Linked DNA regions of Homo sapiens. The protein of the gene in region 1 interacts with the protein of each later gene in a biochemical or structural test. Each region holds a gene or a part of one and is shown in the gene's direction. Other genes may lie near its edges.

Region 1 (16,229 bases):
CTGTCTCCACCCGGCAGGTGACGCTGAGTCTCTTCGGGCTGCGGGGGGCGCAGGCAGAGCGTGGCCCCCGCGCCTTCGCCGCCCTGGCCGAGTGCTGTGCGCCCTTTGAGCCGGGCCAGCGCTACCAGGAGTTTGTACGGGCGCTGCGGCCCGAGGCCCCGCCGCCCCCGCCGCCCGCCTTCTCCTTCCAGGAGTTCCTTCCCTCCTTGAACAGGTGGGTCACTGGAGCAGGGAGTCGGGAACGAGCCCCGGAATCGCGATGCCAGGCTGTTGGCACCGCAGGCTGGTTACTCGAGGTTAGAGAACGCAAAGCCTTAGTGGAATTTAGTACTCCAGGCTCTCGGGGGCCATAGGAGGGTGAATGGGTTGTCCCAGTCCTAGGGGCAGGGGCAGGAATGTGGGGCTACTGTATTTCAGGGGCCACAATGCCCTGGGTGTCAGGGTTTGCAGACCCAAGTGCTTGGAGTTGGTACCTAGACATGATGCCTGGGTGCCATCACCCCAGGCCAGTTTCCTGGGATTCAAACCTTCAAACTTCTGTCTTCTCAGCTCCCCTCTGGACATCAGAAAGAAGCTCTCTGGGCCTCTTCCTCCAAGGCTGGATGAGAATTCAGCTGAGCCAGGCCCTTGGGAGGATCCGGGCACAGGCTGGCGCTGGCAAGGTGAGTGCAATGAGGGCCAGGTGGGAGTGGTGCCAGGAGTTCGTTCCACCAACACATAGGTGGGCTGCAGGAGTGGGGTTTGTGAGCAGGGGACCATCCTTATTGACCTGTGCCACCTAGGGACTCCAGGCCCCACTCCGGGCAGCGATGTGGACAGCGTGGGTGGCGGCAGCGAGTCTCGGTCCCTGGACTCACCCACTTCCAGCCCAGGTAGGGATAGGACCTGGTCCTGACCCACACTCCACCTGTGACCATCCTCCAGCCCCTGGCCAAGCTCTGACCCTCAATCTTTAACTATCTTTGACCTCTGACCTACCCCACACCCCTGACCTATTTCCTCAACCTCTTTTTTTACCTTTTTAAAAATTATTTATTTATTTATTTGTTTGTTTATTTGAGACAGTCTCATTCTGTCGCCCAGCCTGGAGTGCAGTGGCGTGATCTCGGCTCACTGCAACCTCCACCTCCCAGATTCAAGCGATTCTCCTGTCTCAGCCTCTGGAGTAGCTGGGATTACAGGTGTGCACTACCACGCCGGCTGATTTTTGTATTTTTTAGTAGAGACGGGGTTTCACCATGTTGGCCAGGCTGATCTCGAACTCCTGACCTCAGGTGATCCACCTGCCTCGGTCTCCCAAAGTGCAGGGATTACAGGTGTGTGCCACCACGCCCGGCCTTTTCTTTTCTTTTCTTTCTTTCTTTTTTTTTTTTTTGAGACAGAGTCTTGCTCTGTTGCCCAGGCTGGAGCGCAGTGGTACGATCTTGGCTCACTGCAACCTCCGCCTCCCAGGTTCAAGCGATTCTCGTGCCTCAGCCTCCCGAGTAGCTGGGACTACAGGTGCCTGCCACCATGCCTGGTTAATGTTTGTATTTTTAGTAGAGACAAGGTTTTGCCATGTTGGCCAGGCTGGTGTCAAACTCCTTGCCTCATGTGATCCTCCTGCCTCAGCTTCCCAAAGTGCTGGGATTACAGGTGTGAGCCACTGCGCCCGGCCTATTTCCTCAACCTCTTGATCCAGCTTATGAACCACCCCCCTCAGGTTGCTGACCCAATTCTCCAACCCTTAACCACTGACCTGTCCAATCCCCCTCCTGACCTCTGACCCCTTGGGAATTAGTGGGTGGTTCTGGAAGCCCTAAAAACCAGGAGTGCCTCCCATAGCCCAGGAATCTCCCATGATTCCTCTGACCCCAGGCGCTGGCACGAGGCAGCTGGTGAAGGCTTCGTCCACAGGCACTGAGTCCTCAGATGACTTTGAGGAGCGAGACCCTGGTGAGGCTGAAGCAGGGTAGGTCAGGATGGGACAGGGCAGGGCACCAGGCACTCCTGACCCTGTCTCCCTGCAGACCTGGGAGACGGGCTGGAGAATGGGCTGGGCAGCCCCTTCGGGAAGTGGACACTGTCCAGCGCGGCTCAGACCCACCAGCTGCGGCGACTGCGGGGCCCAGCCAAGTGCCGCGAGTGCGAAGCCTTCATGGTCAGCGGGACGGAGTGTGAGGAGGTGTGGCCTGGGTTAATGACCAAATGACCTTTGCTGACCCTTGATCATCTCCCTGACCTGAGATTCCTACAGCCTTTCTGCCCCTGGGACCCACCCTAACCTGATGTCTCCCATGAGCCCCCATTCCTTGAGGATCCTTGTAACCTTCTCTTCCCCTACTGGTCCCTAATGACCTCCCTGTCCCTGTGACCTTCCCCACAGTGCTTTCTGACCTGCCACAAGCGCTGCCTGGAGACTCTCCTGATCCTCTGTGGACACAGGCGGCTCCCAGCCCGGACACCCCTTTTTGGGGTTGACTTCCTGCAGCTACCCAGGGACTTCCCGGAGGAGGTACCCTTTGTGGTCACGAAGTGCACGGCTGAGATAGAACACCGTGCCCTGGATGTGCAGGTGCTGCCCTGACCCTTCATCATCCCCAGAAGTGACCTGACCGAATCGATGGCCTATCACGAACCAGGTGTCTGTTTTTCACCCTCACCCTGCAGGGCATTTACCGGGTCAGCGGGTCCCGGGTCCGTGTGGAGCGGCTGTGCCAGGCTTTCGAGAATGGCCGAGCGTTGGTGGAGCTGTCGGGGAACTCGCCTCATGACGTCTCGAGTGTCCTCAAGCGATTTCTTCAGGAGGTTGGTGCTCAGGACACTGAGGGGGACGCGGGCAGGAGCCCTCCACAGCCCACCCACACTCGTGTTGCGCCCTCCGTTCCACCCCCAGCTCACCGAGCCCGTGATCCCCTTCCACCTCTACGACGCCTTCATCTCTCTGGCTAAGACCTTGCATGCAGACCCTGGGGACGACCCTGGGACCCCCAGCCCCAGCCCTGAGGTTATCCGCTCGCTGAAGACCCTCTTGGTACAGCTGCCTGACTCTAACTACAACACCCTGCGGCACCTGGTGGCCCATCTGTTCAGGTGTGCATGGGTCCCTGAGCCTTGAAACGCGACCCTTTTCCCTGGACATGCGACTACTAACTTCCCTGGCTGACCCCTGACACTGACCTCTGACCTTTGACCTGTGTTTTCTGAACTCTGAACCTTAATCCATGATTCATAACTTTGGGTACTGACCCCTGACCTCCAGTTCTGGATATGTGGCTGCTGGTCTCAGACGACTTACACCTGTGACATGGGCAAGTCACCTCTAGGCTGGCCTGCGTGTCCCACCCTTACCCTCAGACCAATGAGCTTGCATCCTGTACCCTGACCTTTCTCTTCACACCATCCCCAGGGTGGCTGCACGATTTATGGAAAACAAGATGTCTGCCAACAACCTGGGCATTGTGTTTGGGCCGACACTGCTGCGGCCGCCGGACGGCCCGCGGGCAGCCAGCGCCATCCCTGTCACCTGCCTGCTGGACTCTGGGCATCAGGCCCAGCTTGTGGAGTTCCTCATCGTGCACTACGAGCAGATCTTTGGGATGGATGAGCTCCCCCAGGCCACTGAGCCCCCGCCCCAAGACTCCAGCCCAGCCCCTGGGCCCCTCACAACCAGCTCCCAACCGCCACCCCCGCACCTTGACCCAGACTCCCAGCCCCCAGTCCTAGCCTCAGACCCCGGCCCAGACCCCCAGCACCACAGTACCCTGGAGCAGCATCCCACGGCCACACCTACCGAGGTAAGAACCCACTGGGCCCACAGCTATGGAGAGGGCCTTATCTCTGTTCAATTCTCTTACCTTCTCTTTCACCTTCCTTCCTTTTTAAAATTTCCTTCATTCTCTTCCTCCCTTCCTCATTTAACTTATGTTCATTCTGGAAGGAATAGTGAGGAATGAGCAGTGGGCAGTGATGATGTAACAAAAGGGGACAGCCCTGCAGAGGTACTAACATGGGTGATCATTCATTCCTCCAACAGAATATTTATTGAACATGTATTTTGGGCCAAGCATTGTCGTAGGCATTGCAGATACATCCAGGAGCTAAATATCCAAAGACCCTGCCCTCTCAGTGCCTGTGTTTTAGTGGGGAAAGAACAACCATATACATGACACAAAGTCAGTTATCTGGAATGTGATGAGGTGATGATGATAAGGGTAATGGATCATGAAAAGGTAGAGTAATGGCTGGGCGCGGTGGCACACGCCTGTAATCCCAGCACTTTGGGATGCTGGGGCAGGCAAATCACCTGAGGTCAGGAGTTCGAGACTAATCCAACCAATAAGGAGAAACCTGTCTCTACTAAAAATACAAAAATTAGCCAGGTGTGGTGGTGTGTACCTGTAATCCCAGCTACTCAGGAGGCTGAGGCAGGAGAATCGCTTGAGCCCAGGAAGCAGAGGTTTTAGTGAGCCGAGAGCATGCCACTGCACTCCAGCCTGGACAATAGAGCAAGACTTTGTTTCAAAAAAAAAAAAAAAAAGTGGAGTAAGACACATGACACCAGGGAGCAGCACGGTGGGAGGTGGAGTTTGTATCACTAAGTAGGATGGTGGGGGCACGTCTTAGAGAGCAGACGGACTTGAGCAAAGACTGGAAGGACATGAAGGAGTGAGCTGGCAACATGGAGATCAGGTGAAGGGTGTTCCAGGCAAAGGGAACAGCCAGTGCAAAGGCCCTGAGGTAGGATCGTGCCTGGTGTGTTAGGACGCAGCCCCATCCTGTAATGAATGACAGGAAGGTGGTATGAAGTGATACCAAAGAGGAGTGGGCCCAGGTGGCTCTGCCAGCTATCCTGACCTTGCATCTGCTATTCACAGGCACAGACCACCACTGAATGTGCACCTGCTGTGCAGGGGACACTATAGAGGCTTCCTGTTGTCCTCTCCACAGTCCTGAGAGGTAGACAGTGTTAATGAAAATCATTTACAGATTAAACAATGAAGGCTCTGAGCAGTTAATGGCCCTAAAAGGGGACTGTAAGCAGTTGGAATCTTTTATTTTTTTTTGGAGACAGAATCTCACTGTGTTGCCCAACTGGAGTGCAGTGGTGCGATCTCGGCTCACCACAACCTCCGCCTCCCGGGTTCAAGCAATTCTAATGCCTCAGAGACAAGGTTTCGCCATGTTAGCCAGGCTGGTCTCCAACCCCCTACCTCAAGTAACCCACCCACCTCAGCCTCCCAAAGTGCTGGGATTATAGGCGTGAGCCACCACACCCGGCCGCAGTTGGAATCCTTTATTTTTTTAGACGGAGTTTCATTCTTGTTGCCCAGGTTGGAGTGCGATGGCGTGATCTCTGTTCACCGTAACCTCCACCTCCTGGATTCAAGCGATTCTCCTGCCTCAGCCTCCAGAGTAGTTGGGATTACAGGCATGCACCACCACACCCAGCTAATTTTTTTTGTATTTTTAGTAGAGTAGGGGTTTCTCCATGTTGGTCAGGCTGGTCTCAAACTCCTGACCTCAGGCGATCCGCCCTCCTCAGCCTCCCAAAGTGCTGGGATTACAGGCATGAGCCACTGCACCCGGCCTAGAATCTTTTTTTTTTTTTTGAGATGGAGTCTCGCTCTGTCACCCAGGCTAGAGTGCAGTGGTGCCATCTTGGCTCACTGCAAGCTCTGCCTCCCAGGTTCACGTCATTCTCCTGCCTCAGCCTCCCAAGTAGCTGGGACTACAGGCACCCGCCACCACACCCGGCTAATTTTTTTGTATTTTTAGTAGAGACGGGGTTTCACCGTGTTAGCCAGGATGGTCTCGATCTCCTGACCTTGTGATCCACCCGCCTCGGCCTCCCAAAGTGCTGGGATTACAGGCTGGAGCCACTGCACCCGGCCGCCTGGCGTAGAATCTTTAACAAAGGTCACCAGTCTGGATCCAGAGCTCAGCTGTGAACCAGGAAGATAGCAGCACCCGCTGCTCCGGATTGCTAGAACAGTCCATGCCCAAGGCCTGTGCTGCTGGTATCTTGCTGCATCTGCCATTCCTGAGAGCAAGGATCTCTCCTGCAGCAGCCCAGAGCTGGGAAGCGGCTGCTGGTGAACTGTGGGTCTCTGAGAGCTGGAATGCCTCATAAAGTGCTCGGGACAGTGTCTGATGTGTAGACACTGCCAACCATTTAGCTAAGGATGGAACAGTAAAGTTGGTAAGGTTGCAGAGAGCAGCCCAGGATAGTAGTTCAGAGGCACCACCTGGTCCTAATGTGGAGAGGGCTGAGCCACTCCCTGGGCTGGCCATTTGCTAAACAAGGATTTTCCCACCCTCATGGAGCCCACGGTCCAGACTCAATGAATGACACTGCTCTATGCTGGAAGGGCAAGCAGTACACTTATTATTATTTTTGAGACGGAGTCTCATTCTGTCACCCAGACTGGAGTGCAGGGGCATGATCTGAGCTCACTGCAATCTCCACCTCCCAGGTCCAAGCGATTCTCCTGCCTCAGCCTCCCTAGTAGCTGGGATTACAGGCATGCACCACCACGCCCGGCTAAATTTTGTATTTCTAGTAGAGACGGAGTTTCACCATGTTGGCCAGGCTGGTCCCGAACTCCTGACCTCAGATAATCCACCAACCTCAGCCTCCCAAAGTGCTGGGATTACAGGCATGCACCACCATGCCTGGCCAAGCAGTACACTTATAAGGGCATCGTCTATCCCCAAACACCAAAACTGCAAAGGATGACAGGTGCACAGTCAGTGGTGGTCCATGCCCTGTGCATAGGAGGAGTTCAATGGTAGTCCACACCCAGTGCAGAGTAGGTGCAAAGTCAGGGGTGGCTGGCAGAGCCACCTGGGCCCACTCCTCTTTGGTCTCACTTCCTACCACCTTTCCCTCATTCATTACAGGGTGGGGCTGCGTCCTAACATACCAGGCATGCTCCTACCTCAGGGCCTTTGCACTGGCTATTCCTTTTGCATGTCCAGGAACAAGCCCTTGGCTCTCCAGGAATCTCAAAGAACTGGGATTTTAGTGTTGGGGTCTCATTCTTGGGTTTCTCCCTGCAGATTCCAACTCCACAGAGTGACCAGAGAGAGGACGTGGCTGAAGACACCAAAGATGGGGGAGGGGAAGGTGAGTATGTTAGAGAGAGGCTCAGGAGTTCTGGGGGTGCCCTGGCCCCAGGGTGGCTTGCTAAAAGATGACTCCTGGGGGGATATACAGAGAACTTGGAGGTGCTCTGCACTGACCACCCACCCCGTACACAGTGTCCAGCCAAGGCCCAGAGGACTCACTCCTGGGGACACAGTCTCGTGGCCACTTCAGCCGCCAGCCAGTGAAGTATCCCCGGGGCGGTGTGAGGCCTGTAACCCACCAGCTGTCCAGTCTGGCCCTGGTGGCTTCCAAGCTGTGCGAGGAGACCCCCATCACATCAGTGCCCAGAGGGAGTTTGCGGGGGCGGGGGCCCAGCCCTGCAGCTGCCTCCCCTGAGGGCAGCCCCCTGCGCCGCACCCCGCTGCCCAAGCATTTTGAGATTACCCAGGAGACAGCCCGGCTACTCTCGAAATTGGACAGCGAGGCTGTGCCCAGGGCCACCTGCTGCCCGGACGTCCAGCCTGAGGAAGCCGAGGACCATCTCTGACCACCCTGGCACCTTAAATAAGGAAGAGGCCCAGATTGTGAAGACGGACCCATATATCCCTACCTCCCACCACCTAGTGGCCAAACACCCCGCCAGGAGTTCAATGCTGGGAGAGGTCCAGAGGGTTCCTATAAGGAAAAACTATTTAATACATGACCTAGGGGAGGCCTAAAACCCTTTTGGGGATAATGTCCCAGAGTCCCCCCACTAGACACAGGTCACTGCCAAGCATCAGGGCCACTCGGGCTCAGAGGTCACTCAGGGTCAATACTCAGGGTCAGTGCAGGTTATGAGATCCTTGGGGTCCACCCTAGTCTCTGACACCTGGGACAGGGGTGCTTTTGCTACTTTGGTTGTGGTCACTCCCCCACACCTGCCTGCCTCCTTCACGGACTCGAAGTGACCTTCCTGGAGGAGGTGGGCAGCTCAGACTCCACATGCTGGTGGTGCCTGAGGTCTGATGGCCTCTAATAAACTGTGTCCTATATGCCCTTGGGTGCATCTCTGCTAGGGGAGAGGCCAGCATGGGTAGCACTCCTTGCCCCCATTTTACAGATTAGGGGAATCAAGGCCTCTTTTTTTTTTTTTTTTTTTTTTTTTTTTGAGACGGAGTTTTGCTCTGTCTCCAGGTTGGAGTGCAGTGGCACGATCTCCGCTCACTGCAACCTCCACCTCCCGGGTTCAAGCGATTCTCCTGCCTCAGCCTCCCGAGTAGCTGGGACTACAGGCGCCTGCCACCATGCCCGGCTAATTTTTTTGTATTTTTAGTAGAGACGGGGTTTCAGCATGTTGGCCAGGATGGTCTCGATCTCCTGATCTCGTGATCGTCCCGCATCGGCCTCCCAAAATGCAGGGATTACAGGCGTGAGCCACTGCGCCCGGCCTCAAGGCCTCCTTCTTGCATCATCAAACACCCTGCAGCACCTACGTAAAGGCAGTTGGAGCTGGGTCGCAGCACCCGGCTGAGTCACGCCAGCCCGGCCCTCCCGGAGCTCTGCGTCCCCGATCCGGTCCTGCATAATCAAATACAGTATAACAAAGTACCGATAACCGGGACAATGGGGCTGTGTGCTCCGGACCGTGGGAGCCCGGGGCCGCCGCAGGGAGGCCGAGGGAGGAAGCCACAGGGCAGGGCAGGGCAGGGCCGGGCTTTGCAGGGGGCAGCGCTGTCCCAGGGTGAGGGGTACGGGGGCGGGATTGCAAAACCCTAGCGTGCGCCCGATGATCAGCTGGGGCCGCAGAGGTGGGCCTCGCACAGGAGGCCGCGGCTCGCTGATACTGCGAGCTGGCAAAGCCGAAGCTGGGCGGGGGTCCGGGCGGTGGGAGCCAAGTCGGATCAGGGAGTGGCTTGTAACTCGGCGGCCGATTGGACACGAAGAAGAGAGCGGGGTGGGGCTGGGAGGGTTGGGGGTCCGGAGCGGGGGCGCGGACCCAAGACCACCTGGAGCTCCGCCCGGGCAGCGCGGGGTCACGGCGGGAATTTTCGGGTCGCCGAGTGACTCAGCCCCGCAGGCTCGAAACTGCGGGCGCATGAGGTGTGCAGGTACCGGGGTGGGGGTCCCGCGCCGGAAATAGGGGCGACTGAGGGGCCGCGAGGCGGGGAGGAAACAGGGGGGCTGCGGTTCCGGGCGACACCGCCCCCGACGCGGCCGTGGAGGCGGGGCTCCCCCAGGTGGCGGGGCGGGGCAGGGCTCCCCCAGGTGGTGGGGGCGGGGCGCCGGGGAGACCCCGCCTCCCGCGCCCTCTCAGCAACCCGCACAGGGCGCACCCGGACGCTCTACCGCTCCCGCCGCAGTCGCCGGGCCATGGGCCTCGAGCCCGCCCCGAACCCCCGCGAGCCCGCCTTGTCTGCGGCGTGACTGGAGGCCCAGGTGAGGCCTGCACGGACGGGAGGCGGGCGGGTGCGGGCCTGGGCCCGGGGGAAGGGCGCGGCACGTGCCTGCGGGGCCAGGACGCCGCCCTCTGATCCCTTAACCCCCTACCCCTTCCCCAGTCTGGAGACGCCTGGAGGCCCGGCCATCCATCCCTTCCCCAACCGCTGTCTTTGTCCCGGAGACCGCCAGTGTCCTCCGTCCCACCCGGAACAGCCTATTGCCCCGCCCGCTTGGGAAGCACTCGCGCCCAAATCCCGCCGACTAACTTCTGGGGCCGCCTCTCTGTCCACTCCGATCACCTCCACGCCTCGGCACCGCCCCCTCGCAGGGTTCTAGCAAGTGACCTCACCCTTGTGTGCACACGCTCCCGGGTCTCTGCTCCCTACACTGACTCCGGCACCAAAGTGATCCTCCCTCATCTCTTCCCGCAGCTCACACCCCTTTGTCTTTCCCTAACCCTCCTCTCCCCACAACCCAAACCGGGTCACACATTGGCGGCAGGTGGGCTGGGATTCGACCATAGATGGGTTTTGTTTCACTTCTGGTTCAAAAACCTATTGACTTGGGTGATGTCTTGCACACAGGTCTTATTAGTAGGTAAGAAACAGCTGCTCCTCCACCTCCACCCCAGCCCCATGGAGCTTGCTTTTTCCAGGCCACCGTAGTCCTCACCACTGCCACTTTGCTTCGAGGTATCTGAATTTGAGACCCTTGTCCTTCCTGCGCTGACCCTCCTCTGCAGCTGCCGCCCCTCCCTGTGTCCTTCCAAGAAGTGCCACATGCACTGATCTCTTGTGTCCCCAGATGGTCATCATGGGCCAGTGCTACTACAACGAGACCATCGGCTTCTTCTATAACAACAGTGGCAAAGAGCTCAGCTCCCACTGGCGGCCCAAGGATGTGGTCGTGGTGGCACTGGGGCTGACCGTCAGCGTGCTGGTGCTGCTGACCAATCTGCTGGTCATAGCAGCCATCGCCTCCAACCGCCGCTTCCACCAGCCCATCTACTACCTGCTCGGCAATCTGGCCGCGGCTGACCTCTTCGCGGGCGTGGCCTACCTCTTCCTCATGTTCCACACTGGTCCCCGCACAGCCCGACTTTCACTTGAGGGCTGGTTCCTGCGGCAGGGCTTGCTGGACACAAGCCTCACTGCGTCGGTGGCCACACTGCTGGCCATCGCCGTGGAGCGGCACCGCAGTGTGATGGCCGTGCAGCTGCACAGCCGCCTGCCCCGTGGCCGCGTGGTCATGCTCATTGTGGGCGTGTGGGTGGCTGCCCTGGGCCTGGGGCTGCTGCCTGCCCACTCCTGGCACTGCCTCTGTGCCCTGGACCGCTGCTCACGCATGGCACCCCTGCTCAGCCGCTCCTATTTGGCCGTCTGGGCTCTGTCGAGCCTGCTTGTCTTCCTGCTCATGGTGGCTGTGTACACCCGCATTTTCTTCTACGTGCGGCGGCGAGTGCAGCGCATGGCAGAGCATGTCAGCTGCCACCCCCGCTACCGAGAGACCACGCTCAGCCTGGTCAAGACTGTTGTCATCATCCTGGGTAAGTGGGGCCCCCAGGGGGCAACAGGGACCCTGCTTCCCCCTATCTCCCACAAGACACTGCGAAGCAATGAACAAAACAAGCTACCTGATAGAGGGTGATGGGGGATGATTTAGGTGGGGAATGTCCTCCAAGGAGGTGATAATGTATGTGAGCAGAGGCCTGAATGCTGAGGATAGGAACAGAGAGCCTTCCAGGCAGAGGAAACGGAAAGTAAAAACCTCAAGGCAGTACGAGGCCAGAGCCTCTAAAGAGGAAAGTGGGCTTGTGAGGAGGAGAGATCAGCAAGGCCTTAAGGGGCACGGACAGGAGTCTTATTTTGAGTTTCATGGGAACCCCTTAAGAGTTTTTAGCAGTGCTAGCCGGGCACAGTGGCTCACGCCTGTAATCCCAGCACTTTGGGAGGCCGAGGCGGGCAGATCAGCTGAGGTTGGGAGTTCACGACCAGCCTGACCAACATGGAGAAACCCCATCTCTACTAAAAATGCAAAATTAGCCAGGTATGGTGGTGTGTGCCTGTAATCCCAGCTACTCGGGAGCCTGAGGCAGGAGAATTGCTTGAACCCAGGAGGCGGAGGTTGTGGTGAGCCGAGATCACACCATTGCACTCCAGCCTGGGCAACAAGAGCGAAACTCCAGAACTCTGTCTCAGAAAAAAAAAAAAAAAAGGAGTTTTTAGCAGTGCTAAGCCTGTTTTAACAAAAAGCCTTTAAATTGTTTTTTAATCTATATGTATTTTTAATTTTTTTTTTTTTTTTTTGAGACAGAGTCTCGCTCTGTCACCCAGGCTGGAGTGCAGTGGCGCAATCTCGGCTCACTGCAACTTCTGCCTCCCAGGTTCAAGTGGTTCTCCTGCCTCAGCCTCCTGAGTAGCTGGGACTACAGGTGCGTGCCACTATGCCTGGCTAATTTTTCTATTTTTAGTAGAGACCAGGTTTCACTATGTTGGCCAGGATGGTCTCGATGTCTTGACCTCGTGATCCACCCGCCTTGGCCTCCCAAAGTGCTGGGATTACAAGCATGAGCCACCACGCCCGGCCCATATTTTTAAATTTCAAAATTTATTTTTGTTTTTAAGATACAGGATCTTACTCTTGCCTAGGCTGGATTACAATGGCTCCATCATAGCTCACTGCAGCCTCAACCTTCCGGGCTCAGGTGATCCTCCCGCCTCAGTTTCCTGAGTAGCTGGGACTACAGGCATGTGCCACCATACCTGGCTAATTTTTTATTTTTTGTAGAAACGAGGTCTCACTATATTGCCTAGGCTGGTCTTAAACTCCTGGCCTCAAGTGATTGTCCTGCCTCAGCCTGTCAAATGCTGCAGTGAGGTGTGATCGTGCCGCTTCAGTGAGGTGTGATCGTGCCACTGCACTCCAGCCTAGGTGACAGAAGGAGACCCTGTCTCAAAAAAAAACACACAGGCCAGGCGCAGTGGCTCATGCCTGTAATCCCAACACTTCGGGAGGCTGAGGCGGGCGGATCACGAGGTCAGGAGATCGAGACCATCCTGGCCAACATGGTGAAACCCCATCTCTACTAAAATACAAAAAAAAAAAAATATAGCCGGGCATGGTGGCACACACCTGTAGTCCCAGCTACTTGGGAGGCTGAGGTGGGGGAATTGCTTGAACCTGGGAGGCAGAGGTTGCAGCAAGCCAAGATTGTACCACTGCACTCTAGCCTGGCGACAGAGCGAGACTCCATCTCACACACACACACACACACACACACACACACACACACACACACAAAATGTCCAGTGCCTTGGCCACTGTGTACCAATTAGCATAGATGTCCCATCTTAGCAGGCCTTCCTGTCACACTGCAGAATCAGGGAAACAAGCAGCTCTTGCACTGCAAACTTCACCACTATTGCTCGAGCTCTGGAGACCACTCCAACCCCAAACTGAGAGCTGTAGGTGCCGGGCCTCTGACAGCTTGCCCTGCTCACTTCCGCCTCTGTCCCACAGGGGCGTTCGTGGTCTGCTGGACACCAGGCCAGGTGGTACTGCTCCTGGATGGTTTAGGCTGTGAGTCCTGCAATGTCCTGGCTGTAGAAAAGTACTTCCTACTGTTGGCCGAGGCCAACTCCCTGGTCAATGCTGCTGTGTACTCTTGCCGAGATGCTGAGATGCGCCGCACCTTCCGCCGCCTTCTCTGCTGCGCGTGCCTCCGCCAGTCCACCCGCGAGTCTGTCCACTATACATCCTCTGCCCAGGGAGGTGCCAGCACTCGCATCATGCTTCCCGAGAACGGCCACCCACTGATGGACTCCACCCTTTAGCTACCTTGAACTTCAGCGGTACGCGGCAAGCAACAAATCCACAGCCCCTGATGACTTGTGGGTGCTCCTGGCTCAACCCAACCAACAGGACTGACTGACTGGCAGGACAAGGTCTGGCATGGCACAGCACCACTGCCAGGCCTCCCCAGGCACACCACTCTGCCCAGGGAATGGGGGCTTTGGGTCATCTCCCACTGCCTGGGGGAGTCAGATGGGGTGCAGGAATCTGGCTCTTCAGCCATCTCAGGTTTAGGGGGTTTGTAACAGACATTATTCTGTTTTCACTGCGTATCCTTGGTAAGCCCTGTGGACTGGTTCCTGCTGTGTGATGCTGAGGGTTTTAAGGTGGGGAGAGATAAGGGCTCTCTCGGGCCATGCTACCCGGTATGACTGGGTAATGAGGACAGACTGTGGACACCCCATCTACCTGAGTCTGATTCTTTAGCAGCAGAGACTGAGGGGTGCAGAGTGTGAGCTGGGAAAGGTTTGTGGCTCCTTGCAGCCTCCAGGGACTGGCCTGTCCCCGATAGAATTGAAGCAGTCCACGGGGAGGGGATGATACAAGGAGTAAACCTTTCTTTACACTCTGAGGTCTCCAAAACATTTGTTGTTATCAATTCAGTGTTTCTGTCCCTGTGTCCCGGAATTGTCTACCTTGGCCCAAGTCCAGAAAGGATCTTTCAACATGGTATCTCCTTGGCCCTGTGCTCGCTCTTCTTCAGTCTGGCTGGCTGTTATTCCATCTCTCTCTTTTTTTTTTTTTTTTTTTTTAGACAGAGTCTCACTTTGTAGCCCAGGCTGGAGAGCAGTAGCACAATCTCAGCTCGCTGCAACTTCTACCTCCCAGGTTCCAGATTCTTGTGCCTCAGGAGAAGCTGGGATTACAGGCGCGTGCCACCACGTCCAGCTAATCTCTGTATTTTTATTTTTATTATTTATTTATTTGTTTGTTTATCTTTGAGAGGGAGTCTCGCTCTGTCACCCAGGCTGGAGTGCAGTGGCTTGATCTCAGGTTACTGCAACTTCTGCCTCCTGGGTTCAAGCGATTCTCCTGCCTCAGCTTCCCGAATAGCTGGGTTATAGGCATCTGCCACTACACTCGGCTAATTTTTGTATTATAGTAGAGATGAGGTTTCACCAATGTTGGCCAGGCTCGTCTCAAACTCCTGACCTTGAATGATCCACCCACCTCAGCTTCCCAAAGTACTGGGATTACAGGTGTGAGCTACCGCGTGCCTGACTAATCTTTATATTTTTAGTAGAGATGGGGTCCCACCATGTTAGTCAGGCTGGTCTCGAACTCTTGACCTCAAGCGATCCACCTACCCACCTTGGCCTCCCAAAGTGCTGGGATTATAGGCATGAGCCACCACGCCTGGCCCCTCTCTCTTACTGGGGTCTTGAATCTGTTTCTCTCTGCTTCTGTTCTTTGTTTCCCCCATCTGTTGCTCTGCCTCCATCTCACTGCCTGTCTCCCTGTCTTTCTCTGCAGCTCAGAGTAGTGTCTGGACCCTATGAGCCCCCTCCCTCCCCACTGCCCTTTTGTTTGAGCCCTGATGGTTCAAGGTCACGTGCCCAGCCGTTTCTATCCCATTCCCCACCACCTGTATTCATACTTCCAGCCACAGGTTGTGGGGTTCAGGTAGTGGGATGCAGGATTTGAGCATGACCATTTCTCAAGCTCTTCTGATGTGCCTGGCATACTGGTAAACACTTTAGGTGCTTTTTTTTTTAAATTTTTTATTTTTTTGTGATGGAGTGTCACTCTGTCCTCCAGGCTGGAGTGTAGTGGTGCAATCTCGGCTCGCTGCAACCTCCGCCCCCGGGTTTCAAGCGATTCTCCTGCCTCAGCCTCCCAAGTAGTTGCGATTACAGGCACCTGCCACCGTGCCCGGCTAATTTTTGTATTTTTGTTAGAGATGGGGTTTCACCATCTTGGCCAGGCTTATCTTGAACTCCCGACCTTGTGATCCACCCGCCTCGGCCTCTCAAAGTGCTGGGATTACAGGCATGAGCCACTGTGCTGGGCTTTTTTTTTTTTTTTTTTTTGAGACGGAGTCTTGCTCTGTTTCCCAGGCTGGACTGCAATGACGTGATCTCAGCTCACTGCAACCTCTGCCTCCCAGGTTCAAGTGATTCTCCTGCATCAGCCTCCCGGGTAGCTGGGATTACAGGGATATGCCACCACACCCAGCTAAATTTTTTATTTTTAGTAGAGATGGGGTTTCACCATGTTGGCCAGGCTGGTCTCGAACTCCTGACCTCAGGTGAGCCGCCCGCCTCAGCCTCTCAAAGTGCTGGGACTATAGGCGTGAGCCGCCATGCCTGGCCTTTTTTTTTTTTTTTTTTTTTTGAGACAGAGTCTCACATGATCTCAGCTCACTGCAACCTCCGCCCCCTCCAGGTTCAAGCGATTCTTCTGCCTCAGCCTCCCAAGTAGCTGGGACTACAGGCATGCACCACCATGTCTGGCTAATTTTTTGTATTTTAATAGAGATGGGATTTCACCATATTGGCCAGGCTGGTCTTGAACTCCTGACCTCATGATCCGCCTGCTTTGGCCTCCCAAAGTGCTGGGATCAGTCTTTCTGATTTTTATGTGAGAACACTGATTCAGACAGGTTGTGATCTGGCCCATGGTAAACACAGCTTGGAGATGGCACATACAGGCCCCGAGGGACCAGAGAGGCCCCTAGGAAAGGGACTTCAGATTCCCACGAAGCCCAGGGTTGGTCCCAAGCTCAGCTGGGCTTTCCCTACCTCACCCCACAGCACCCAACCCATGAGTGCCAGATCCATCATGAGCCCCCTCTGAGATGCTCAGGGAGGCCCCCTCCAAGGCACAGTGTGTGCCAGGATGTCATTCTCTGCTCCCACCTCACCAGTGAGGAGGTGGGGTTATGTCC
Region 2 (15,416 bases), on another chromosome or scaffold:
AGGGGTGCCCAGGGAGAACCTGTCGGTGATGTTCCTGTACTCAGACCCGCCGTTTCTGCCCCTCAGTTACAGGCAGCTCTGGGCTAACCCTGTGCCAGGGTTGGTTTAATCAGCCCACTCTGCAATGGGGTCCAAGCCTCAGGTGTGTTGTGAGGTCTGGAAGCGAGGGGTGGTGGGCTGACCACTTGGCAGCTCCTAAGCCCTGGCCATTGCTGGTGCCCACTAGTCTGCTGCCTTGACAATCCTGAGTAGTCAGGAGAGTAAAGGGGGAAACTGAGGCCCAGAGGTTGGCCATGACTCACCCAGAGTCCCACTCACTGGGTGCCAGATCCAGGGGCAGGCCTTCTGACTCCCTTGCCCAGGGCAAGGGCTTGGCGACGGGGTGGGAGCCCTGCCAGGCTCCATCCTGACCCAGCTTCCTGTCCCCTCCAGAGGCGCCAAGGGCAAGCCATACCTGACGCTGGAGCAGCTCATGGACTTCATCAACCAGAAGCAACGCGACCCGAGACTCAACGAAGTGCTGTACCCGCCCCTGCGGCCCTCCCAGGCCCGGCTGCTCATCGAAAAGTATGAGCCCAACCAGCAGTTTCTGGAGCGAGGTGAGCTGGCTGGGGTGCAGGTGGGTGGGGGCAGGTGGGACCCCAGCTGACCCTGCTGATCCTCTCCCACCCCAGACCAGATGTCCATGGAGGGCTTTAGCCGCTACCTGGGAGGCGAGGAGAATGGCATCCTGCCCCTGGAAGCCCTGGATCTGAGCACGGACATGACCCAGCCACTGAGTGCCTACTTCATCAACTCCTCGCATAACACCTATCTCACTGGTGAGTGGGGAGCAAGGGTGGCACCCGTGACCTCTGCCCTGTGACCCTTGCACAGCCCCACTCCTCCTGGGGCACAGTCCTTTTGGCCCATTTGCTCATTCATTGGCCAGTGCTGGGGATGCAGGCAGGGAACAGGCAGCCAGCCCTGAGCAGTGGGGCCTCATGGTGGCTTTCCCAGGGAAGGGCTGGAACAGCTTGTGTTAGGGCCTGCAGCAGGAGAGACTTCAGGGTCCTTTTTTTTTTTTTTTTTTTTTTTTGAGACAGAGTTTCGCTCTTGTTGCCCAGGCTGGAGTGCAATGGCACGATCTAGGCTCAGCGCAACCTCTGCCTCCCAGGTTCAAGCGATTCTCCTGCCTCAGCCTCCCAAGTAGCTGGGATTACAGGCATTCGCCACCACGCCCGGCTAATTTTGTATTTTTAGTAGAGATGGGGTTTCTCCATGTTGGTCAGGCTGGTCTCAAACTCTCAACCTCAGGTGATCCGCCTGCCTCGCCCTCCCAAAGTGCTGGGATTATAGGCATGAGCCACCTCGCCCAGCCTGCAGGGTGCTTTTAAGAGGCTGGAAGGGGGTTGGGTGCGGTGACTCATGCCTGTAATCCCAGAACTTTGGGAGGCTGAAGCAGGCAGATTACTTGAGCCCACGTTTTGAGACCAGTCTGGGCAACATAGCATGACCCCATCTCTACAAATAATTTTTAAAAAATTAGCTGGGCATAGTGGCGCATGCCTGTGGTCCTAGCTGCTTGGGAGGGTGAGGTGGGAGTATCGCTTGGTTCTGGGAAGGTTGAGGCAGGAGTAAGCTGTGATTGCACCACTGCACTCCAGCCTGGGTGACAGAGTGAGAGACCCTTTTCTAAAAAAAAAAATTAAATAAATAATAAAAAAGCAGAAAGGAAGCTGGTGCGGCAGGGTGCAGAGTGCTGGAGATAGGTGCCTGCTAAGAGAGGGAGAGCAAGGCAGGGCTAAGCCCAGGGGCCTAGAGGCACTTGGATTCATCCTGGGTGTGAGGAAGAGGCTTTTTGGAGGGTGAAGCAGAAGAGGTGATGTGACCTGATATGATATGTTTTTAGAAGGATGATGCCAGGTGCTCTATAGAGATTGGATTGAGGCCAGGCACAGTGGTTCACACCTGTAATCCCAGAACTTTGAAAGGCTGAGGCGTGTGGATCACCTGAGGTCAGGAGTTCGAGACCAGCCTGGCCAACATGGTGAAACCCCATCTCTACTAAAAATACAAAAATTAGCCAGGCATGGTGGTGGGCAACTGTAATCCCAGCTACTCGGGAGGCTGAGGCAGGAGAATCGCTTGAACCAGGGAGGCGGAGGTTGCAGTGAACCGAGGTTGTGCCACTGCACTCCAGCCTGGGTGACAGAGCGAGGTTCCGTCTCAAAAAAAAAAAAAAAAGAGATTGGATTGGAGGCAGGGAGGGCTGGAGTCTTCCACACAGGAGGTGGTGTGAGCTGTGCCAGGGCTGAGGTGGGTGGAGGGAGTGAGGAGAGGGAGGGATTGTTGAGGCAGTGGGGAGCTATAGTGAGTCTCAGGGATGACTCCCCCCAGCTCACGCTGGTGGGATGGACAGGTGGTGGGTATCCATCTGAGAGATGGAGAGCCCTCTGCAAATCCAGCATGTCCTGGTTCCAGGTGGGGCCGGGGTGGTGAGGAGCTGGGCTGGTGGGCGGCCTCGGTGACAGAGCCTCGCCGCCCCAGCGGGGCAGCTGGCTGGGACCTCGTCGGTGGAGATGTACCGCCAGGCACTACTATGGGGCTGCCGCTGCGTGGAGCTGGACGTGTGGAAGGGACGGCCGCCTGAGGAGGAACCCTTCATTACCCACGGCTTCACCATGACCACAGAGGTGCCTCTGCGCGACGTGCTGGAGGCCATTGCCGAGACTGCCTTCAAGACCTCGCCCTACCCCGTCATCCTCTCCTTCGAGAACCATGTGGACTCGTGAGTGAGCCCCTGGCATGAAACCCCATGGACCGGGGGACAGTCTTCCAGCTTCAGTGCTGTTGGACTGCTCAGGGACCTCCAACCCTGCGAACGGCCACTGACATGTCCCGTAGACCTCAGCTTCCTCTCTGGGGGAGGGATCTCTGACCTCTGACCTCGGTTCCGCAGGGCAAAGCAACAGGCAAAGATGGCTGAGTACTGCCGCTCCATCTTTGGAGACGCGCTACTCATCGAGCCTCTGGACAAGTACCCGGTACGGGAGCTCGGAGCGAGGGGGGTGGCATGGGGGCCAGGGTGCTGCGGACCCGGTCCAGGGCCCTGACTCGTCCATGCCTGCCCAGCTGGCCCCAGGCGTTCCCCTGCCCAGCCCCCAGGACCTGATGGGCCGTATCCTGGTGAAGAACAAGAAGCGGCACCGACCCAGCGCAGGTGGCCCAGACAGCGCCGGGCGCAAGCGGCCCCTGGAGCAGAGCAATTCTGCCCTGAGCGAGAGCTCCGCGGCCACCGAGCCCTCCTCCCCGCAGCTGGGTAGGCCCCAGCCCGGCCCGCCACCCTGACTTGACCCTAGCCTCTGGCCTCATGCTCCAGGCGCCGTGACACTTCATCCCAGACCCCCAGCCCACCCTCCTGCCTCGCTGTGCGCCTGTTCCCACAACCGGCCTGTCTCCTCACCACCTGTCGGCTGGTGTGGGGCCTCTGACCCCTGACCTCAGGTGCACGTCTCACCCAGCTGCACCCCAACTCCTGACTCCCAACCTCAGCCTCTCACCTCTCAGAGCCTTCCCACAACCCGGTGATGGCTCTGAAGGCTGACCTCTGACCTCAGTAAACCACATCCCACACTGGGTGTGACCTCAGACCCCTAAGCCCGCATTGAGTTCACCTGCCCAGTTGGTTATCATTTCAGCTGACCTCTGACCTCTCACCCCTGACTGTTCACCTCACTATGCCCCCTCCTTAGACATGGCTCTGACTTACCCCTGACCTGTAACCTCTCTATGTCATCCCTTACCCCGCTATTAGGGCTGTGGTATGCTACTTCCTGACTTCTCACCCCACTGAACCACCCTATCTGCCTCCCTGCTGAATATCACTGCAGACCTTTACCTTTGACCTATGACCCCTCTCAACCCATACTGGGTTAATACCATCTGACCTCGACCTCTTGGCCTCTCCCCAAGCCACACTGCCCTGAGAGTACCCCTTGAATTCCCCACTGAGTCACCTCGGCACACACTGGGAAAAACCCCTCCAGACTTCCTAAGCAGCTGTGTGGTCCTGACCCCTCACCCTGTGGCCCTGTCCTCTGCAGGGTCTCCCAGCTCTGACAGCTGCCCAGGCCTGAGCAATGGGGAGGAGGTAGGGCTTGAGAAGCCCAGCCTGGAGCCTCAGAAGTCTCTGGGTGACGAGGGCCTGAACCGAGGCCCCTATGTTCTTGGACCTGCTGACCGTGAGGATGAGGAGGAAGATGAGGAAGAGGAGGAACAGACAGACCCCAAAAAGCCAACTACAGATGAGGTCAGGCCCACAGGGTGGGCAGGTCGGGGAGGTAGCATCTATTTACCTCCCAGGGGGCTGGGTCTGACCATCAACAAGACTGACATCACCCCTGCCTCCTGGGGCTCAGTGTGGGTGTGAGTGAAGGTGGGAGGAGGGCTCTTCAGTCATCAGGCATGGAAACAAGCATACAGTTCTGCTGGTGATGTGGCCTGGGAGGTGCGAGTTAGGGTACAGAACTGGCAGAGGATAGGGAGTCTACCCTGGGCAGGGAGGTGGGGCAGGGAGACCTCAGGAAGGGGGACAGCATGTACAAAGGTCCTGGGGCAGGGCCAGGGGGTGCAGGAGCGGGGAGCATTGTCATGGGGAGCATTGAGTAGCTGTGAGGAATGGTACAGAAAAAATCAGTCTGAGCTGGGCGTGGTGGCTCACACCTGTGATCCCAGCTACTCGGGAGGCTGAGGCATGAGAATCCCTTGAACCTGGGAGGTGGAGGTTGCAGTGAGCTGAGATTGCACCATTGCACTCCAACGTGGGCTAAAAAGGGAGACACTATCTCAAAAAAAAAAAAAAAAAAAAAAGACATCATTGCTATAAAGACAATTACTGGAGCAATTAGTGAAATTTAAAGATGGACTACATATTAGATAATATGTTAATGTTTTGTTTCCTGAATTTAATTATTGTATTGGAGTTATAGAAGAGAATGTCCATATATGCTGAAGTATTTATGGGTAAAGGGTCATGATGTCTATAATTTACTCCCAAATGATTCAGTAAAAGTAATGATAATTATAACACCTATATGGGCCAGGCGAGGTGGCTCATGCCTGTAATCCCAGCACTTTGGGAGGCTGAGGTGGGCGAGTCACCTGAGGTTGGGAGGTTCCAGACCAGCCTGGCCAACATGGTGAAACCCCATCTCTACTAAAAATACATAAATTAGCCGGGCAAGGTGGCGGGCGCCTGTAATCCCAGCTACTTGGGAGGCTGAGGCAGGAAAATTGCTTGAGCTGGGTGGTGTCCAGGGCGCATCAGTGAGACCCCGGGGAGAAGACTGTCGGCACCACCAGCAGTGTGTATATAGTGCTGGGAAGAGGGTCAGCACCTCCTTCATGGGGGGCAGGTGAGGGAATGGCCAGCTGTGGCGGGAATGGCACTGCTGACCCTGGGTTGGGGCCCACAGGGCACAGCCAGCAGCGAGGTGAATGCCACTGAGGAGATGTCCACGCTTGTCAACTACATCGAACCTGTCAAGTTCAAGTCCTTTGAGGCTGCTCGAAGTGAGTGGGGGTGGGTGGCAGGCATGGGAGCTTGCCCAGCTCAGCCCTGCCAGGTCTGACGCCCTTTCTTGGCTCACCCCTAAGAGAGGAACAAATGCTTCGAGATGTCGTCCTTTGTGGAGACCAAGGCCATGGAGCAACTGACCAAGAGCCCCATGGAGTTTGTGGAGTATCCTTTGAAGGTGCTGTGGGCGGGCAGGCCAGGGTGGGGCGCTCGGAGGCCGGCTCCGGTGTTCTGTCCCCACATATGCCACCTGCACAGGGTGCTGGCCCTCCGGCGGCCCTCCTGCACCCTGGCCTGGGGCTTGGGCAGATCCAGGCAGTCTCAGGGGGCATGGCTAGGCTAAGAAACAGAGGCCGGGTGTGGGGGTCACAGGAGCACCTGGCTGAGGCCGGAGGTGGAGGCTGATGGGGTGGGCCCTGGCACCTGTGTGGCCCCTGACCACCAATCTCAGATACAACAAGCAGCAGCTCAGCCGCATCTACCCCAAGGGCACCCGCGTGGACTCCTCCAACTACATGCCCCAGCTCTTCTGGAACGTAGGGTGCCAGCTTGTTGCGCTCAACTTCCAGACCCTCGGTGAGCCCTGGCCCCCTCCATCTTGACCCCGACCCTCAGTCTTACTGACTTCTGACCCACGATCCTGCTGGTCTTGCCTGAATGGACCTCTGACCCTGTCTCATCCCAGATCCCAGGGGAACCCAGCTCCCGACTCACCCCGCCTCCTGCCCTTGGCTGATACCAGACCCCTCCCCTGTCTGATCTGTCCTGGATCCGGACCCTGATGCCATTTGAGCCCGCCCCTGACCCTGGACCTTGGATGCCATCTGACCTGATGATCTCCCATTCCCCACATGGCACCGTCCTGCCTGATCCCTGCCCCTGCTCGACGTGCCCGTGGCACCCCAGATGTGGCGATGCAGCTCAACGCGGGCGTTTTTGAGTACAACGGGCGCAGCGGGTACCTGCTCAAGCCGGAGTTCATGCGGCGGCCGGACAAGTCCTTCGACCCCTTCACTGAGGTCATCGTGGATGGCATCGTGGCCAATGCCTTGCGGGTCAAGGTGGGGCTTGCGGGCGGCTCAGGCCAGGGGTGTCCTGGGGGCAGGACTCTCAGCATCCGCCTCACCCTCCTTGGCCCACCCCCAGGTGATCTCAGGGCAGTTCCTGTCCGACAGGAAGGTGGGCATCTACGTGGAGGTGGACATGTTTGGCCTCCCTGTTGATACGCGGCGCAAGTACCGCACCCGGACCTCTCAGGGGAACTCGTTCAACCCCGTGTGGGACGAAGAGCCCTTCGACTTCCCCAAGGTGAGCCTGGCCCCTGCACCCGCCCAGGCACAGGCAGATCCAGCCCAGACCGCCCCGACTCTCAGGTGGGAGAACAGGAACCAGGCACACCGTTGGCGACTGGGGATCAGAAAGTGGGGGGTGCCATGGGTCCCCCAGGACCTGCCTGTCCGAGCGTCAGTCTCCCTGCCCTCCTTAGGGTAAGAGACCAGGGTGAGAAGGTGAGATGGGGGTTGGGGGGTGTCAGCTAGACGTCTTGTGTCCCCTGCGAGGAGTGGACACAGCCTACCCTGTCTCCGAGGCAGGAGCTGAGGTCACAACCCCAAGCTCATATCCGCTCTTCAGCACCCCGCACGGCCCTGCATGGACGCGGCCTCTGCTCCCAGCCTGGGCATGTGTGTTCTTGGTTTCCTGCTCATGACTCACTCCCGTTTCTAAACTGGCAATGACCAGAACTGTCTGTGGGGGCCCTGGAGGGGCCTGGCTGCCTGTCATCTTGCCTCAGGGTCCTGATGGCTGCAGTCATCCATTAGGCCAGGACATGGAAGTGGGGTCAGCCATCAGCTTAGTGGCAATGGTGACTGATGGTCAGTAGGTCAGCTCGTCTGAAGGTCTGCTTTGTTAAGCTTTGATGGCTGTGGTTAGCTGTGGCCTGGTAGCCACAGTGGCCCAGGGTCAGCCCTGTGGCTCAGCTCCAGTCTGGCCCACAGGTGGTGCTGCCCACGCTGGCTTCACTTCGCATTGCAGCCTTTGAGGAGGGGGGTAAATTCGTAGGGCACCGGATCCTGCCTGTCTCTGCCATCCGCTCCGGTGAGGCCTTGGTGGGCTCTGGGCAGCACAGCGGGCAGTGGGTAGGGCCCCCACCTGGCCCAGCAACCCAACGTTGCCTTCCTGACCACCCAGGATACCACTACGTCTGCCTGCGGAACGAGGCCAACCAACCGCTGTGCCTGCCGGCCCTGCTCATCTACACCGAAGCCTCGGACTACATTCCTGACGACCACCAGGGTGAGCTGGGGGTGGGCGGGGCCTGCCTGGCCAGGGAGTGTGAGGGACAAGGGCCACCCCCAGGGCCTGGGAGTGGCCGAGCTGGATGGCCCCGACTGAGTAGGGAACTGAGTAGGGAACAGATCTGAGGACAAGCTCTGGAATTCCTCATTGAGACCAGAGGTGGCGGGTGGGGGTGGCCTGGGGGCTCTGTCTCTGAGACCTTGGCCTTCTGCCTCCCCCCAGACTATGCGGAGGCCCTGATCAACCCCATTAAGCACGTCAGCCTGATGGACCAGAGGGCCCGGCAGCTGGCCGCCCTCATTGGGGAGAGTGAGGTGAGCCGGGGCAGGGCAGGGCTCAGGCTCACTGTGACCCAGGGGGCCGCTGGACATGACTGCTGTGGCCACATGAGGAGGGGGCTTCTGGTCTCTCTAGCGCAGTAGGCTTGGCAGCCCTGGGATTTTGAGGAGATGAAAACCACCCATTTGCATTCAGGAGGCCTTCAGGTCACACCTGGGCTGGAATTCCTCCAGCTCCATGTAGGCTTGGAGTGGGGGTACAGGGGTCTCAGCCACTTCATCAGGGCAGTGCGAAGCCACAGAAGCTGTTCAGACGTGGTGTCCTGGGAGTCATGAGGAGGGCAGTGGCTTCCGTGGGGAGGGGTCAGGCACGGAGGTTCACCTGCGCTTCCAGATCCAGTCCCCCCAGGGCCTGCGGCAGGCGGGCGGGGAGAGATGACTGCAATTAGGGCTGCCTGGAGCTGTTAGCGGAGAGGCTGGTGCCCACTCTGCGGTTGAGTCCTCTGTTGATTTAATCAGGAGCTCAGCAGCAAGGAAAATGAGCGACTGTAGGCAAGGCTGGGGGACACAGGCAGGGGAGGAGAGGAGGCTTGGGGCTGGGCCAGGCCTTTCCAGAACAATCTGGGAGTTACTGAGCACATGCAGTGGGCTGGCATTATGTTATCTTCCCCACAGCCCATGTGGAAAAGGGGTTTAGAAAGGCTTGATTTATAGCTCTTCTCATGCAGACAGCCTCCTGTTACAGAGCAGTCCAGCAGTGGCTTGGACTAAGGGAGGCTGACAGGGGTGCTAGGGGACCCAGGAGGTGGTAGAGGACAGAAGGGTCTGGAGGGAACAGCATTTCTGAAAAGAGCATTCTCCTTTCTCCCTATAGGCTCAGGCTGGCCAAGAGACGTGCCAGGACACCCAGTCTCAGCAGCTGGGGTCTCAGCCGTCCTCAAACCCCACCCCCAGCCCACTGGATGCCTCCCCCCGCCGGCCCCCTGGCCCCACCACCTCCCCTGCCAGCACCTCCCTCAGCAGCCCAGGTAAGGAGTGGCCTGGGTCGGGGGTGGGCTGCAGGGAGGCACCCCCCACCCTGTCCTCCAGCTCCTCACAGGGCCTCTGCTCCCCAGGGCAGCGTGATGATCTCATCGCCAGCATCCTCTCAGGTAGGGGGCGGGGTACCTGGAGGCAGGGGGCTGCCTTGCAGGTTCCCCCACCCCCCGCCCACCTTTGCTCTGCCGCTCCCAGAGGTGGCCCCCACCCCGCTGGATGAGCTCCGAGGTCACAAGGCTCTGGTCAAGCTCCGGAGCCGGCAAGAGCGAGACCTGCGGGAGCTGCGCAAGAAGCATCAGCGGAAGGCAGTCACCCTCACCCGCCGCCTGCTGGATGGCCTGGCTCAGGCACAGGCTGAGGGCAGGTGCCGGCTGCGGCCAGGTGCCCTGTGAGTGTCTGGGCCGCCTGTGTGCTATGTGTGCTGGGTGTGCTGATGTGAACATGGGGGTCGGTGGGCATGGAGAGATGGCAAGAGCTGCTCCTTGACCCCCAGGGAGGAGGGTTCAGTGCAAGGATGGAGGAGGCTTTCCACACCAGGCGTCCCTGTGTCCCCCAGGGAGTGACATCTCTTTTGAAGTCCATGAGGAGCATGTTGCCCAAACAGGCTCCCATCACTTGGGTGGAGCTAACAGGCCTCCTGGTTTGCATAACAGACCTGGCCCCATGGGATGGTGTCTGCCATCGCTTGCCAGGATGTGCCCCCCTACACACCCTCCCCATCCCAGTCCATGTGACGGGCCCAGGCATCACCCAGAGGGGTTCTCCTCGCAGAGGTGGGGCCGCTGATGTGGAGGACACGAAGGAGGGGGAGGACGAGGCAAAGCGGTATCAGGAGTTCCAGAACAGACAGGTGCAGAGCCTGCTGGAGCTGCGGGAGGCCCAGGTGGACGCAGAGGCCCAGCGGAGGCTGGAACACCTGAGACAGGTAGGGGGCCTGCAGTGGCCAGGGAAAGCCTGCTGGATAGACCCGTCGTCAGCCCGGCATCACCTGTCAGCTCCCTGTGTCCACAGGCTCTGCAGCGGCTCAGGGAGGTCGTCCTTGATGCAAACACAACTCAGTTCAAGAGGCTGAAAGAGATGAACGAGAGGTGAAAGCCGAGGATTGTCTATGGGAAGGGCTGGGGACTTCTAGTACCAGAAGGAGGGCAGAGTCTGTGCTTCTGCCGCTGACCCCTCCTCTTCCCCTGCCGGCTTCTCCAGGGAGAAGAAGGAGCTGCAGAAGATCCTGGACAGAAAGCGCCATAACAGCATCTCGGAGGCCAAGATGAGGGACAAGCATAAGAAGGAGGCGTAAGGGCACCGGGACCGGGGGCCATCTGGGTACTGGGGAGGCAGGGCAGGTGTCTGGGCCCCGAGCCATCCTGCGTTGCTCCCGTGCAGGGAACTGACGGAGATTAACCGTCGGCACATCACTGAGTCAGTCAACTCCATCCGTCGGGTGAGTCAGGCTCCCGGGCCACCCTACCCCACCTCCCTTCCTTCACTCATCAGACACCCATCTCCATGCCTGGCCTGGTGCCACGTTGCCCTCAAGGTTCTTCTAGGGCCTTTCTCAAGTGCCCAACAGCCCCAGGGTACCCACATCATACCCAAAGCCAACTGTCTGTACCAGTGTCCCTGGCTTTGGCGTCCTTGGGCCCAGTCCTCTCACAACCCTGATACATTGCCCTGGGAGCCTTCGCCCACCTGACTTCTTTTTCTTTGAGACAGAGTCTCACTCTGTCGCCCAGGCTGGAGTGCAGTGGCGCGATCTTGGCTCACTGCAACCTCTTGGGTTCAAGCAATTCTCTTGCCTCAGCCTCCCGAGTAGCTGGGATTACAGGCATCCGCCACCATGCCTGGCTAATTTTTTTATTTTTAGTAGAGATGGGGTTTCACCATGTTGGCCAGGCTGTTCTCGAACTCCTGACCTCAGGTGATCCGCCCGCCTTGGCCTCCCAAAGTGCTGGGATTATAGATGTGAGCCACTGCACCCGGCCTCGCCCACCTGACTTCTATACCCAGCCAGAGCCTCGAGGCTCTAGCCCCTCCCTCAGGGCCCCTCAGCTGAGCCCTTGCCCACCCCTGTAGCTGGAGGAGGCCCAGAAGCAGCGGCATGACCGTCTTGTGGCTGGGCAGCAGCAGGTCCTGCAACAGCTGGCAGAAGAGGAGCCCAAGGTGAGGCCATGGGCGAACAGGTGGGCAGACGGGGTGCAAGGCAGCCAGGCCTCGCCTGTGATGCCCATCCTTCTCCCACAGCTGCTGGCCCAGCTGGCCCAGGAGTGTCAGGAGCAGCGGGCGAGGCTCCCCCAGGAGATCCGCCGGAGCCTGCTGGGCGAGATGCCGGAGGGGCTGGGGGACGGGCCTCTGGTGGCCTGTGCCAGCAACGGTCACGCACCCGGGAGCAGCGGGCACCTGTCGGGCGCTGACTCGGAGAGCCAGGAGGAGAACACGCAGCTCTGAACTGGCTGAGCGAGGTGGCCACAGGGCCAGGGCGGGCGCTGGGTGGAGGGCAGGAGGCAATGACACTAATGCTTTTTTTTTTTTTTTTTAACTTTTTATCTAGAAATTTTATTTTTTTAAACCCGGGGCAAGTACCTCAGCTAACTCCCTTCATCCTCCTGGGGCCCCTCCTTCCTGCCCTCAGTCTTAGGTTAGGGCCTTGGTCAGGGCTTTGCTCCCTGTGACACCCACACCCTCGAGCTAGCAGCGTCTCCTCCCTTCCCCGGGAGAGCTGGCTGGAGACTTGGAGCTCCGGGAAGTAGGAGTCACATTTTTTTCTCTATTCTTTGGGGATTTTTTTTACATGAATAAAAGTGGATTTCAGGGACCCTGTGTGCAGTGTGATTTGGGGTGACAGGACTCTGGGCCCTAAGTTTCCTCATCTATAAAATGGACTTTGGGCATTTGGTGGGGTTGAGGTCACGCCTCCAGCCAAGGGCTGCTGGGTTGAACCTGAGCTTGCCCTGCCGAGTCTGCTGAGCTTCCGTGGCCTTCTGCTTGTGCCCTCTGCCCCCAAGCCGCTGTTCCTGTTCCCCCATCCCCATGACTTTCGTCTCTCCGAGGCTCTCCCTGTTCTCTCTTTTCTGAGGCTCAGGCCTCTGCTTCAGGAAGCCTTCCCTGCCCCGCTTCCTGTGGCCTGATATGACCCAAACGCCTAGTATCTTCCGCTGGGGCTGCTCTGGGCCCCCGACAGGCAGTTGACTCTATCAGGTGATGGATCGGCCAGGGTGGAGCAGGGCAGCTCAGAACCTGCCCAACACCGGGGGACCTGGGTCTTCAGAAATAGGTGGGCAGTAGGCCTGCCTGTGACTCTGGGGGAAGGGAAGTGGACAGTCACAGACACGCAGGGGCTGGGCCACCCAGCATCCCCTCATCCCTGTGAGGGAGATGTTATGCCTGTTTTACAGATGAGGAGACTGAGGCCCGGAGCCATCTGTCGTGTGCTAGGCCACAGCTAAGTCAAGACGTCCTGACCTGGAGGCAGGGCAGGCCTGGACCCTCCGTGGTGGACTGTCTTCAGCCAGCCTGGACCTGTCCCATGCCTCAAGACCAGCGAAAAGTGGCAGAGAGCCCACAGTGCGGGCTCCAGGGCGGGGCTGGGCTCGCAGCAGGGTCGGCTTGGCACCTCTTCAAGGCCTCTCCCAGCTTCCTGGCTCTTCCCAGGCTGCCCGCCTGCATCCCTCCTCCAGGGGAAGGCGGCCTCTTATCTGGGCTTATCTCCTGCCAATTGAGTATCTTCTTTGCTTTGTTTTTGCTGCAGCCTCAGGCAAACAGATGGGGTGGGGAGGCCAGGGAAACAGGCTCCGGAGTAGGGCCCTCCTCCCTCAGGGTCAATGCAATGGCCCCAGACTTCCTCACTTCTTCTGTGGGACGCTGCCCTATCCCCCAGTTCTGCTCACTCCAGTGTATTCCGTATCTAGGCTCCTCAGCAGCCAACTCCCACCTTCCTGACTCTAGCTGGTGTCCACTGAGGGACACACTCCAAGTCAGTTCCCAGGTCCTCAAATACCAGCTGAATGTCTAACTTCTGGGTGTGACATTCCAGCCCCTAGAAGCCTGGCCTCTGCTGCTCCCCTGTCCTTCCATGGGTCCACTCCTCCTTGCGCCGGGGGGGATGACCCTCACCTCACCTTCCGGTCGCAGCTCTAGCTGCCTCCTCCCTGAAGCCCTCTCTGACTGCCCTGCCGATTCCGGGCCCTCGGGAGCTTCCGCGAGCAGGGCCGTGGCGCAATGCATCTCTGTGCCCGGCACCAAGAACCGGCCCGGGTTATAGGGGGCGCCAATAAATCTTTCTGGAACGGAGCCCCCGCTCTGTCCGGGTCCCCGCATGAAGCCTCAGTTTCCAGCGACCGCGCTGCTGCCAGCCTGGCTCAGCCGCTCCCTCCCGCCCCGCGAGGTACCCGGGCGGCGCTGGCCCCGGGCCGGCCACACAGTAGCTGCTGGAAAGGGCTGACCCAAATAGGAGCGAGTGACCCTCTCTGGGGGGCCGCGGCACGGTTTGCAGAGCGCGGGATCGGGCTGCCGGCAGCGCTGCGGTCCCAATGCGCGTGCTGGGGACTTGGACCTGGGCCGCGCAGCCCAGGCCCGCGAGCCGCCGCGACCCCTTCCGTCTCTGTCGCTGGATGTCAGGCAGAGCCTAAGTTTCCCTCGTAAGACAGCGGCCTCTTTTGAAAGTATCCGTGAGAGCACTACCCCGGCCTGCCGGAGCCCCAGTCGACGCACAGAAAAGCCTCGGCGGCACAGACGCGGGCTTTATTAACATTTGGTAGTGAGCACGGCCCCCAGGGCATCGCGGGGGCTCGGGTCCCGGTGACGCAACGGTTAAACCTGGCTCGCGACTTAGCGCAGGCGCCTGGGGGAAAGCCCGGAGCCTGAGGGCGGGGCCACGGAGCCACTTCCGGCGGCTGTGGGCGGAAAACCCAAAACTTCCGATGGGACCAAGCCTTCCGTGGCTTCACACGCACCGGAAGGGAATCTGGGTCAGCCCTCCCTCCAAAGGAGACAGCACGGATCCTCTTTTTGCATAGGCCTGAGGGAAGTACTTCCGCCCATATTCAAGATGGCTGCCCAGGGCAGTGGGAACGGGTGGAGTTTCGGGATGTGGAGCGAAGGTCACTGGGAGGGGGCGGAGCTTCCCCTGCCCAAGTTCCGATCCCACCAGGACTGGAAGACTCGCGTCCAGCTGGAGCTTTGCCGCATCTGCGTTGCTGTGCCCGCGCTCTTCGGGCGAGGAAGTCCCTTCTGGTGGAGGGAGAAAAGGGTTACATGAGTTAGATTACCATGGCAGCTCGAGCCAGGCTCTCCACTTCCGTGAGCCTTCCTCTAAGTGAGATCGGGGGGGAGATAATGAAGGCCACAACTCCCAGGAGGCTCCACGCCGGGCGGTCAGGGACGCTCGCGAGGACGCATGGGCCCCCAGGAATGGGAACTGGTTAGATCCCAGGAACTCCGTGCCGGAGACGGGAAGAGAGGATGCCTAGGGCCCTAAATGGAAAGGCCAGAGCTGGAGACCTAGCACCCAGAAGATGAGACCGCAATTCGAGAATCAAAGGGCCGGGAGCGATGGTGAGCGCCTGTAATCCCAGCACTTTGGGAGGTTGAAGCGGGAGGATCCTTTGAGGCCAGGAGTTCCAGGCTGCAGTGAGCCGTGATCGCACCACTGCACTCCAGCCTGGGCGACAGAGCGCACAGGTGCCAGCAAGGAGCACAAATACCAGCATGCCTGGTCTTCCAAGAATTCGGGGAACCCAGGAGCTTTGGCCTGGAGTGGGATCTAGACTACAGATCCCAGCATGCCCTGTGAGACACACACACACACACACACACACACACACACGCCTGGAGTGGGATCTAGACTACAGATCCCAGCATGCCCTGTGACACACACACACACACACACACACACACACACACACACGCCTGGAGTGGGATCTAGACTACAGATCCCAGCATGCCCTGTGACTGACACACACACACACACACACACACACACCTGGAGTGGGATCTAGACTACAGATCCCAGCATGCCCTGTGACTCTCTCACACACACACACACACACACACACACCTGGAGTGGGATCTAGACTACAGATCCCAGCATGCCCTGTGACTCACACACACACACACACACACACACACACACACACACACACGCCTGGAGTGGGATCTAGACTACAGATCCCAGCATGCCCTGTGACTCTCACACACACACACACACACACACACACACACACACACACGCCTGGAGTGGGATCTAGACTACA

The links.
Region 2: the proteins of LPAR2 (region 1) and PLCB3 form a complex in vitro, tested with the Homo sapiens proteins (one study listed by BioGRID).

The regions. Positions count from the first base shown.
Region 1 is NC_000019.10:19,621,350-19,637,578, reverse strand, and holds LPAR2 (lysophosphatidic acid receptor 2), read left to right. Parts: upstream 1-9,358; 5' UTR 9,359-9,487; intron 9,488-10,294; 5' UTR 10,295-10,303; coding exon 10,304-11,036; intron 11,037-13,009; coding exon 13,010-13,323; 3' UTR 13,324-13,924; downstream 13,925-16,229. Other genes in the region: GMIP (GEM-interacting protein), read left to right, coding at 18-214, 550-662, 783-872, 1,858-1,935, 2,010-2,164, 2,366-2,554, 2,650-2,787, 2,876-3,072 and 3 more. UniProt on the Homo sapiens protein: Receptor for lysophosphatidic acid (LPA), a mediator of diverse cellular activities. Seems to be coupled to the G(i)/G(o), G(12)/G(13), and G(q) families of heteromeric G proteins. Plays a key role in phospholipase C-beta (PLC-beta) signaling pathway.
Region 2 is NC_000011.10:64,255,944-64,271,359, forward strand, and holds the end of PLCB3 (1-phosphatidylinositol 4,5-bisphosphate phosphodiesterase beta-3), read left to right. Parts: intron 1-432; coding exon 433-599; intron 600-674; coding exon 675-821; intron 822-2,529; coding exon 2,530-2,770; intron 2,771-2,941; coding exon 2,942-3,026; intron 3,027-3,114; coding exon 3,115-3,301; intron 3,302-4,085; coding exon 4,086-4,291; intron 4,292-5,456; coding exon 5,457-5,553; intron 5,554-5,637; coding exon 5,638-5,722; intron 5,723-6,008; coding exon 6,009-6,133; intron 6,134-6,242; coding exon of another isoform or gene 6,243-6,316; exon of another isoform or gene 6,317-6,423; intron 6,424-6,463; coding exon 6,464-6,618; intron 6,619-6,703; coding exon 6,704-6,865; intron 6,866-7,554; coding exon 7,555-7,654; intron 7,655-7,747; coding exon 7,748-7,852; intron 7,853-8,077; coding exon 8,078-8,169; intron 8,170-9,007; coding exon 9,008-9,161; intron 9,162-9,248; coding exon 9,249-9,284; intron 9,285-9,366; coding exon 9,367-9,559; intron 9,560-9,942; coding exon 9,943-10,096; intron 10,097-10,182; and 11 more. Other genes in the region: BAD (bcl2-associated agonist of cell death), read right to left, coding at 14,266-14,394; integral membrane protein GPR137, read left to right, coding at 14,716-14,718. UniProt on the Homo sapiens protein: Catalyzes the production of the second messenger molecules diacylglycerol (DAG) and inositol 1,4,5-trisphosphate (IP3).